Regions from separate parts of the Homo sapiens genome. Here regions 2 and 3 are each linked to region 1. Evidence: fine-mapped expression QTL. A gene starts in region 1. Each other region holds a variant in brackets. All regions are shown on one strand. Distances are from middle to middle.

Region 1 (2,760 bases):
TCATCTGTGGGTCTCAGGTTGAGATTCCCTGCCCTCAGAGATTATTCTTGAAGTACTTACACCTTCCCTGGATGAAAAGGAGAAGAAAATCTGAGGTCTTGCTCCCCAACTTGTTTTCCCCTTAGCTAAAGGGTCAAGCGTCGGGGGTGAGGTGTGAGAGGTTGAGGAGGAAAAAGGATTAGTATTACTTTTTTAATGCGATGGCGGCGGGGGGGGGGCGGGAAATGGAGTAGGCAGACTTTTGTCTGATTGTGTGAGGGTGGGAAGAAATGTTATCAGCTGAGAAGATGAAAGAAATGGATGATTAAGGTACTTTCCAGACCTTAGCAAGGAAGATGACAGCTCTGATGAGAAATCTCCCTATGCCGAGGCTTCAGAAGCAGCCCTTCCAGCAGAGAAAGTATTCATTAGAAAAAGAAGGCAAAGTGATGGATGGAGTCAGGGTCCAGCCAGGGTTTGGGAAGAGGCTGTACAGGGTATCGATCGCAGTTCTCAAGAGAAGAGAGACAGATCAGCAGAGATGCTGCAAACACCAGCTGCCTCGGGGCCACCCCAGTTCTGGGGCTGGCTCTGGCTCGGAGACAGCCTTCTGTCATCCTGTCATCATGACAGGTGATCTTGGTCAGCTTGGCCAGGTCCTCTCAAATCCAGACAACGCCACGCCAACCCTCTGCTCTGCATCAGGGCAGCGTGGGTTTCCCACAGAGGAGGCACGACACGGGAGCCGAGGCCCTCCCCCACACCACCCCTGTGTCCTTCAGCACCTCCTACAGACTCCCTCCCCTTGCCCTTCTGATTCACAGCGCCCACCTCCCTGCACCTACCCTATTCGATCTACAGGGGAGCGGAGTCGCTTCGTGGCCGCCAGCCCGGGAAGGGGCGCCAGCCAGCTGGCGGACGCACGGCTTAGAGGGGCGTCTGGGCAGAGAGGTTTGGGGCTGGGGAGAGATGCAGTGAGCTTGGGAGAGTGGACTGGTAGCACAAATAATGTGTGCATAAGGGTTAGAAGAGGAGGTCCTGGAGCTTTGGTCTTCTCTTTTCCCCCTGCAATTGTGCATTTCGGAGGGACTCTTGCTGCAAGCTCGGTAGGCAATAGCATCCGCTCCAAGACTACACTTCCCAGAAGGCTGTGAGTGGGTGGGGGGGGGGGGGGCGCGGGGAACAGGCAACCTGTGTTGCGCTTGCGCAAAGACTGCGCTGGAAAGGCAGGTGGGGAGGAGGGGAGGCGTGCCCGCGACGGGGCGAGGGGGAGGGGGCCGCGCGGCGGCGGCGCCAGGGCGGGCGCGCGTCCGCGGCGGTGATGGCGGTGCGTGAACGCGCGGCGGCAGCAATGGCCGCTCTGGAGCGGCGGGTGCCGAGTCTCGATGACTTCGCGGGACAGAGCTGGAGCTCGTGGGTGGAGCGGGCCGACCTGCCCGCGGCTGACGGTGAGTAAAGCCACCCTAAAGTCCGGGGACCCCATCACTATCTCCCCTCCCCCCTTCCGGGCCCCCGCCAGCTGAGGGGAGCCGCCGACTGGAGCCGCCGTCCGGCTCCCCGGCCCCCCAAACAAAGGACCCGCCGGGTCCTAGTGCCCGCCCGCTCCGTCACCTTCGCGCCTCCGGGTCCTAGCGCCTGCTCACCGCTCGCAGCCCACCCTGCCAACCTCTGCCTCTGCCAGTCGCTAATACCTGCCCCCATATAGGCTTGCCTTTATCTTTCTCCTTGCCTGCTGCCCCTCAGCTCGCGACCCTCCTGCACCTGCCTCCAGCTTTCCCTGTCCGCAACAGTCCTCCACGTGTTTCCCACGCACCCCACTTCTGTGCCCCCTTCCTCACCCCCCTTGTTCCTTCGCCTTTTGCCCCACACCTCCTGCTCCTTTTCGGCATTTGCCTGCAGCTGCAGTGCTTTTAGACCCCCGCCCTCTCCGCGTTAGTTCGTCCGTCCATCCATCTATCCTCCCTCCCTCCATCCTTCGGTCCATCCATCCATGCCTCCAACCCACTGTCCTTTCCCAGGCCTCTTGCCCTGCCTCTTGGCTCTCTGCTCTTACTCTCACCTTCTCTAGGCCCCTGAGTGCCTTAGTGAGCGGGCCTACAGCCCCTTCTTCTGATCTTTGTCTTCTGGGCCCCAGGGAGCACCTGGCCTCGTGGCCTTTCGGGGTGACAGCAGGCATCACGCCCCTGAAGAAGTTTGCAAGTGAGAAGAGGTGGAGGAGGAGACTGCACGGAGGGGTCTCTAATGACACTTGTTCTCCTCTGAGACATCCGACTCCCAGTTTCGTTCTATCCATCATTCCCCGCACTTGCATTTAACGGACTTAGAGTGGGAGCTGCCCCTTGTCTCTTGCGTGCCTAACCCACGACCCCTCATAATCTGGATATTATATAAGATTGTCAACAATCTTCTCATCCTAGAAAGGAGCATATCTGTTAATGGGCATCAGAGAGCAGACCTAAGTGGGAGCCCAGGCCACCCTGGGGCTGCCCCATGCTGGGTGGGCAAAGATGGGGCCATTGTCAGGGTCTGGGTGCATTGAGAACCGGAAATGGAGTCAGACGGGTTTGGTGACTCAGAATTGATTTTTTTTTTCCCAAGGGACAGGGAGGGGGCGTAGAGGAGGGAGGGGGGAGGAGAGAGGTAGGGGGATGGGGAAAAAGCTGCTTTGCACAGCTAAGATGTTTTTGTCATTAACCCAGAAACTGAGGTACAAGGGCAACCCCTGCCCAAAGGCCCTCTAAGAAGGGGAGGGACTTGCATAGCTGACCAAGGAGACTTTGA
Region 2 (2,760 bases), 21 kb after region 1:
GAGCGCCAAGTCATGGGATTTCTAAACTCTAAAGCTTCAGTGACATTTGAGAATCTTAGGGGTCAGCAAAGTATGGTCTGTTGGTCAAACCAGCCCACTGCCTGGTTTTATGTGGCCTGTGAGCTAATAGTAGTTTATATATATATATATATATATATATAACATTTTTTTTTTTTGAGATGGAGTCTTGCTCTGTTGCCCAGGCTGGAGTGCAGTGGCGCTATCTTGGCTAACTGCAAGCTCCACCTCCCGGGTTCACCCCATTCTCCTGCCTCAGCCTCCTGCGTAGCTGGGACTACAGGCGCCCACCACCACACCCGGCTAATTTTTTGTATTTTTAGTGGAGACGGGGTTTCACCGTGTTAGCCAAGATGGTCTCGATCTCCTGACCTTGTGATCCACCTGTCTCGGCCTCCCAAAGTGCTGGGATTACAGGCGTGAGCCACCGCGCCCGGCCTAGTTTATATATTTTTTAATGCTTGGAAAAACTCAAAAGGCATGTTAAAATATGAAATTCAAATTTCAATGTCCATAAGTCAAATCTTTTTTGGACCACAGCCACAGTCATTCATTTTTGTCCTGTCTGTGGCTACACTCAAGCTATAGCAGCACAGCTGAGTTGTAACAGAGACTGTGTGGTCTGCAGAGCCTAAAATATTTACTATCTGGCTCGTTAGGGAAAATGTTTGCTGACCCCGGTCCATCTTAATGCCTAGATGTGTATTTCACCCATGTCCGTACAATAGCACTTAAAGATTTTCTTCCTAGATAGGACACACCCTTCTGAGGTACAGTGAACCCCACCCACAGGCTGAAAAAATAAACCAGTCAGATTGTGCCAGAACAGAGACTCAAGCCAGGTTTAATGATCATTGTCTAGTTTTCAGAGCCCAGAGGCTCCAAGATTTGCCAGCCTAGGTGTACACAAGTGGGAGGAATGGGGTCTTGGACACGGGAGGCCTGCTTGCTTTGTCAGCAGAGCTACGAGGAAGTACAGAGGTAAGAACACACAGAAAACTGGATCCATCTGCTTTGCTCTCCCCAGCTGGGGTGTACCCTCTCCTGGCCCCTTTCTTGGGCCCCATAAATACAAAATAATAATAATAATAATAATTACACAGATTGTAGAGCCCTGTCATCCTCTGTCTCCAGGGACACCTGCTTCCTGGGAGACATGTCTGGTTTATGGGTGTGGGGTAGGGTAAGAGGAGGTGGTGATCTCTCGGCCTTTTCTTATACCCACACCTGGCAGTTTTCAACACAGGGTTCTAGTGCGCTTACATATGCTGATTATTCAATTCTCCAATTAAAAAGCTACCTTTGGGTTCTATCACCTGAAACCACGGGAAGAAACAAATCAAATCTCTTG[G/A]TAGGGCAGCCAGGTACATCTACCAGGTGTCTCAAACTCAAGGCCAAACTAGTGGATATAGTCAGGAGACTTAAGAGCCACAGGGCCTTTTCTCATTCCCTAAACTGGGTAGGAATTATGAAGAAAACGGCCCTCCCAGTCCTCAGGAGCTCCATCACGATGCCCCAGAAGGCCTGCTTCATTTAACGCTCACTTTAAAGATCTTCAGAGCCCTAGATGGTGCCAAGCGGGGAGACTGCAGCATGGAGATGAGATTTTCCCAGATTTCCTGATGAGTCTGAGGAGGGAGTCCTAGTTCCTATAGCTCCAGTAACAAAATTCTCAGGAGTCTCTGGAATAAATCAAGACAACTTTTCTCTCCTGAGGACAGTTAACAGGAAGAGCAGCTCACAGCTACTTAGCCCCTTGCCAGTTTCCTTCTGAGTCCTTCAATGACCTAGTTCTATCTTAATTGCTCATATATTGCTCATATATATAGTCTTCACGGGAGGTTTCTGAGGAGTCCAAAGAACCAGGTAGCTCCTTACCACCTCTTCTCCCAAGGCCTTCAACCCATGGTTCTTCTAACTCCAGCCTGGGCAGAAAAGTGATTCAGTGCCATGGAGATGTGGGTGAAGCTTCAGGGAGTTCAGAAATGAAAATACAGGAGTGTGTATTTGAAGAGCCTGGCATGGTCACTGTCTCTCCTAAAGAGGAATACAATTGTGTGCATGAAGTTGTGCACATTGGTGGAGACCATTCTGAGAGTATCATTAATGGGGACTACAGATTCACTGTCCTGGTGGAAGTCAAGGTGCTGGTGTGCATGCATACCTATAAGCATGCATACCTATGAGCATGCAGGTACTTGAGGGAAATGCTGCACCTCTCTCTCAACAAAACTAGGTTACTAATAAAGGATGGACAGCAGTCTTGAGTTCCCAGGACCAGACAAGGGGAAGATGTTGAGTCCCCTTCCCCAATCATAATAGGAAGCTTAATAGTCAGGCCCTCCAAGCCCCTCACCCACAGGTAAATGACACCTCTTAGAATGTAAAAAGAGGTCAGAAATCTAGAGGATCTGGAGAACTTCCAATGGACTAGAAACGTGGGAGAGAAGAGACCCTAAGAAAAACCAACATCAGAGAACATTTTCACCTTCACCCTGCTCATCCCCCGCCAAAGCTCAGAGCAGCCACTCACAGGGCATGCAGTGTAGTCAAAGGGAAAGGTTAAAGGGATCGGTCATCTCCATACTCAAAGTATTCTGCAACCTTGGATGGAATGGAATGTTGAGCTCATTCTTCTTAAGTTCCTCTGGCCTCACAACCACAACTGCAAAGACCTCTCGATGGAGGAATGGGGTGGCAGAACTCCCCTTCTGAAAGTTTAGTACTACTGATTATCTCTGC
Region 3 (2,760 bases), 110 kb before region 1:
ATGTATGTCTGTCTTTTTCTTCTCCTTGCCGTTGGTTCTTCATGAAATTCATTTTTTCAGTACCTTATCTACCAAAAACTATGCATGAGGAAATGATTCTGGATGGATTACTATAAGAGTCTAGGGAGTCTCAGAAAGCCATATGAGAAATCTTGGAGATGGCTGGGCACGGTGGCTCACGCCTGTAATCACAGCACTTTGGGAGGCTGAGGCGGACGGATCACTTGAGGTCAGAAGTTCGAGACTAGCCTGGCTAACATGGTGAAACCCCATCTCTACTTAAAATACAAAAATTAGCCGGGCGTGGTGGTGCTTGCCTGTAGTCCCAGCTTCTTGGGAGGCTGAGGCATGAGAATTGCTTGAACCTGGGAGGTGGACGTTGCTGTGAGCCAAGATTGCACCACTGCTCTCCAGCCTGGGTGACAGAGCAAGACTCTGTCTCAAAAAAAAAAAAAAAAAAAAAAATTCTTGGAGATACCAACTATCTAAGATAAATGGGTAAATCATGGAAATTAGGGTACAACTCAAATTTTAGAAAAAACTGAACTATGCTTAAAGAAATTCTACTGAAAGTTTAAAAATTAATCAAAATAAGAAATTTACAATTTGCTTTTCAGCACCAAGATTTTATTTCTTTAGGCTTCTAATATAACTATCATGTGCCTCAATGCTATGACACATGCATTATGGAATACCAGGGGGCAGGAGATGTTGCCCCTGCTCTTGTTCAAGCAGGATAATAAGACAGCCAGGCAACAAGTCCTGATTTAAGACCAGGGGCCAATGTATCCTCAGCGTGTCCTCCTAGTGGGAGCCCAGCTGTATATCAGGAGGGATAAGGAGCTGACTGATCCTCCTTCCATTCCCCCAATCCTGGCAGTACCTCCTTTGTGGCAGGGGCAGGGACCAACAGATGAACAACCATGAGCCCATGGGCACCACAGTCCCTCAACACACCTGTAGGAAAGGACACAGGAACAATACAATTTGGAGGAAAAGTGCCAGGATGTTTTTAATGGACATTTTCTGTTTCTATATAGGGGTTTCCCCAAGCATTGTGCGCTTCCCTTCTCAGTACAGAGCACTTTCATCTTTCTTCTTGCTCATCTTGATGCTAAGCAGCCACCAAGGACTGAAAAGGTGTCCATCTTCCCACCGTGGAAGAAGGTGGTCAGAAGATGTTCCCGGCCAGGCGCAGTGGCTCATGCCTGTAATCCCAGCACTTTTGGGAGGCTGAGGCGCGTGGATCACCTGAGGTCAGGCGTTCAAGACCAGCCTGGCCAACATGGTGAAACCTCATCTTCACTAAAAATACAAAAAATCAGCTGTGCATGGTGGTGGGTGCCTGTAATCCCAGCTCCTTGGGAGGCTGAGGCAGGAGAATCGCTTGAACCCGGGAGGTGGAGGTTGCAGTGAGCTGAGATCATGCCATCGCACTCCAACTTGGGCAACAAGAGCGAAACTCCGTCCCCACCCCCCCGCAAAAAAGATGTTCCCAATTCTAAAGCAAAACCAACACAACTACAACTTCCTGAAAGTCTGTCTTGCAAACATGTGTTTTCTGTGATTGAGGCTAA[A/G]GACAGTTTCAGGAAGAAATGATATTAGGTGCTTAACCCTTCCCCAAATCTGTTATCATCTTCTTGCTGGGCTGAAATAACAGACTCAAAATATGACTTACCCCAGTGCTATCTCCAACCCAGGACAAGGATACTGAGCCTCTGAGATCATCAAACACATGCTATAAGGGGAAAAAAAATTAATTTAGAAATGACAGCCACTCTCCTTCAATCTTTGGCTTCTTTAAATATCTGAACTTTATTACTGTTCAGAGTAATTAAGTTCATAATTACAAAGTGGGTATGGATTCCCAGTACAAAATTTGGGAGGGATGGGATTTAACTACTTAATGTGAATCACAAATAACTTGGAAATTTAAATTCTCTCTAACACAAAGTAAGCCAAGCAGATGAGTTTTCTTTACTGCACCAGATGGGGAGATGGGAGATGGGACAATCTAATTGCTTTCTCCAACAGAACTAAATATAAAGGTATAGCAAAGTATTTTTAGGATGCTTTAAAACAAAAGATCATAGCCCACACTGGCAGGCGTAATTGTAACCAAATCAACATAATTTAAATTTTTCTGGGCATCCTTTACAGTATAGCTGAAAAGTTCGTAACTGGATTCCTTTTACTTCTAGTCTAGCTCACTCAAAAATGACAACGGGCAGAAGCAAGAAGCAAATGCCTTTGTTTCACCTTTTTATTTAATAACAATAGTAATAATGATAATAATAAAACAACCTTACTAGAGTTGCAGTGAGAGTAAGGAGGTAAAAAAGGGAAAGCTGGTATATTATATCCAAAATATAGTAAGCATGTTAAAATATAGTTATAATAATCATTGTAGGTGGTTTTGGGTTTTGTTTTTCAAATACTTCCTTTCTCTACTTATACAATAATATATATTCATTAAAGAAGATGTAGACAATTATAAGAACGCATAATAAAGATAAGTCACTCATAATCCTACCACATAGAGATATTCAAGGTTAATATTATATGTATTAATACAATCGTCTGTTCTCTATAATTTTTGTAACTGATAAAAAAAATAAAAATTCCAAAGAGGTAATAACTGCACTTGGCAAAAATTTCAAACCATATAGAAATTACATACTATATAGAGTCTATATAGCAAAGAGTGAAGATCCTTCTCTTTTCCAGGCCACATGCTCACCACCCAAGCCCCATTTCTTA

Alleles and levels. Alleles are on the strand shown, and positions count from the first base shown. SD is a standard deviation of normalised expression in the study named. Not every link is listed here.
For the expression in aorta of the gene that starts at base 1,252 in region 1, A is the high allele of the variant in region 3 and G is the other (moderate effect, 0.59 SD a copy in GTEx).

What was found. PIP is the estimated chance that this variant, and not a neighbour inherited with it, causes the effect. A credible set is the group of variants that fine-mapping cannot tell apart.
Region 2: its variant is the best candidate, but not a certain one, in a credible set for the expression of ATXN7L2 in whole blood (INTERVAL, PIP 0.87).
Region 3: its variant is the best candidate, but not a certain one, in a credible set for the expression of ATXN7L2 in aorta (GTEx, PIP 0.79).

The regions. Positions count from the first base shown.
Region 1 is chr1:109,482,654-109,485,413 of GRCh38, forward strand. ATXN7L2 (ataxin 7 like 2) reads left to right here and starts at 1,252. Exons shown (of 11, transcript NM_001350175.2): 1 at 1,252-1,427. The coding sequence starts at 1,301. RefSeq lists enhancers at 724-1,341, 1,342-1,961 and a silencer at 1,155-1,324.
Region 2 is chr1:109,503,342-109,506,101 of GRCh38, forward strand. It overlaps AMIGO1 (adhesion molecule with Ig like domain 1), which reads right to left. Exons shown (of 2, transcript NM_020703.4): 2 at 837-2,760. Among named protein-coding and RNA genes, the nearest start is that of AMIGO1, 5.0 kb to the right of the region's middle. The variant G/A (reference allele first, on the strand shown) is at 1,370.
Region 3 is chr1:109,367,852-109,370,611 of GRCh38, forward strand. SORT1 (sortilin 1) reads right to left here. Exons shown (of 20, transcript NM_002959.7): 2 at 1,679-1,738. Among named protein-coding and RNA genes, the nearest start is that of SORT1, 29 kb to the right of the region's middle. The variant A/G (reference allele first, on the strand shown) is at 1,578.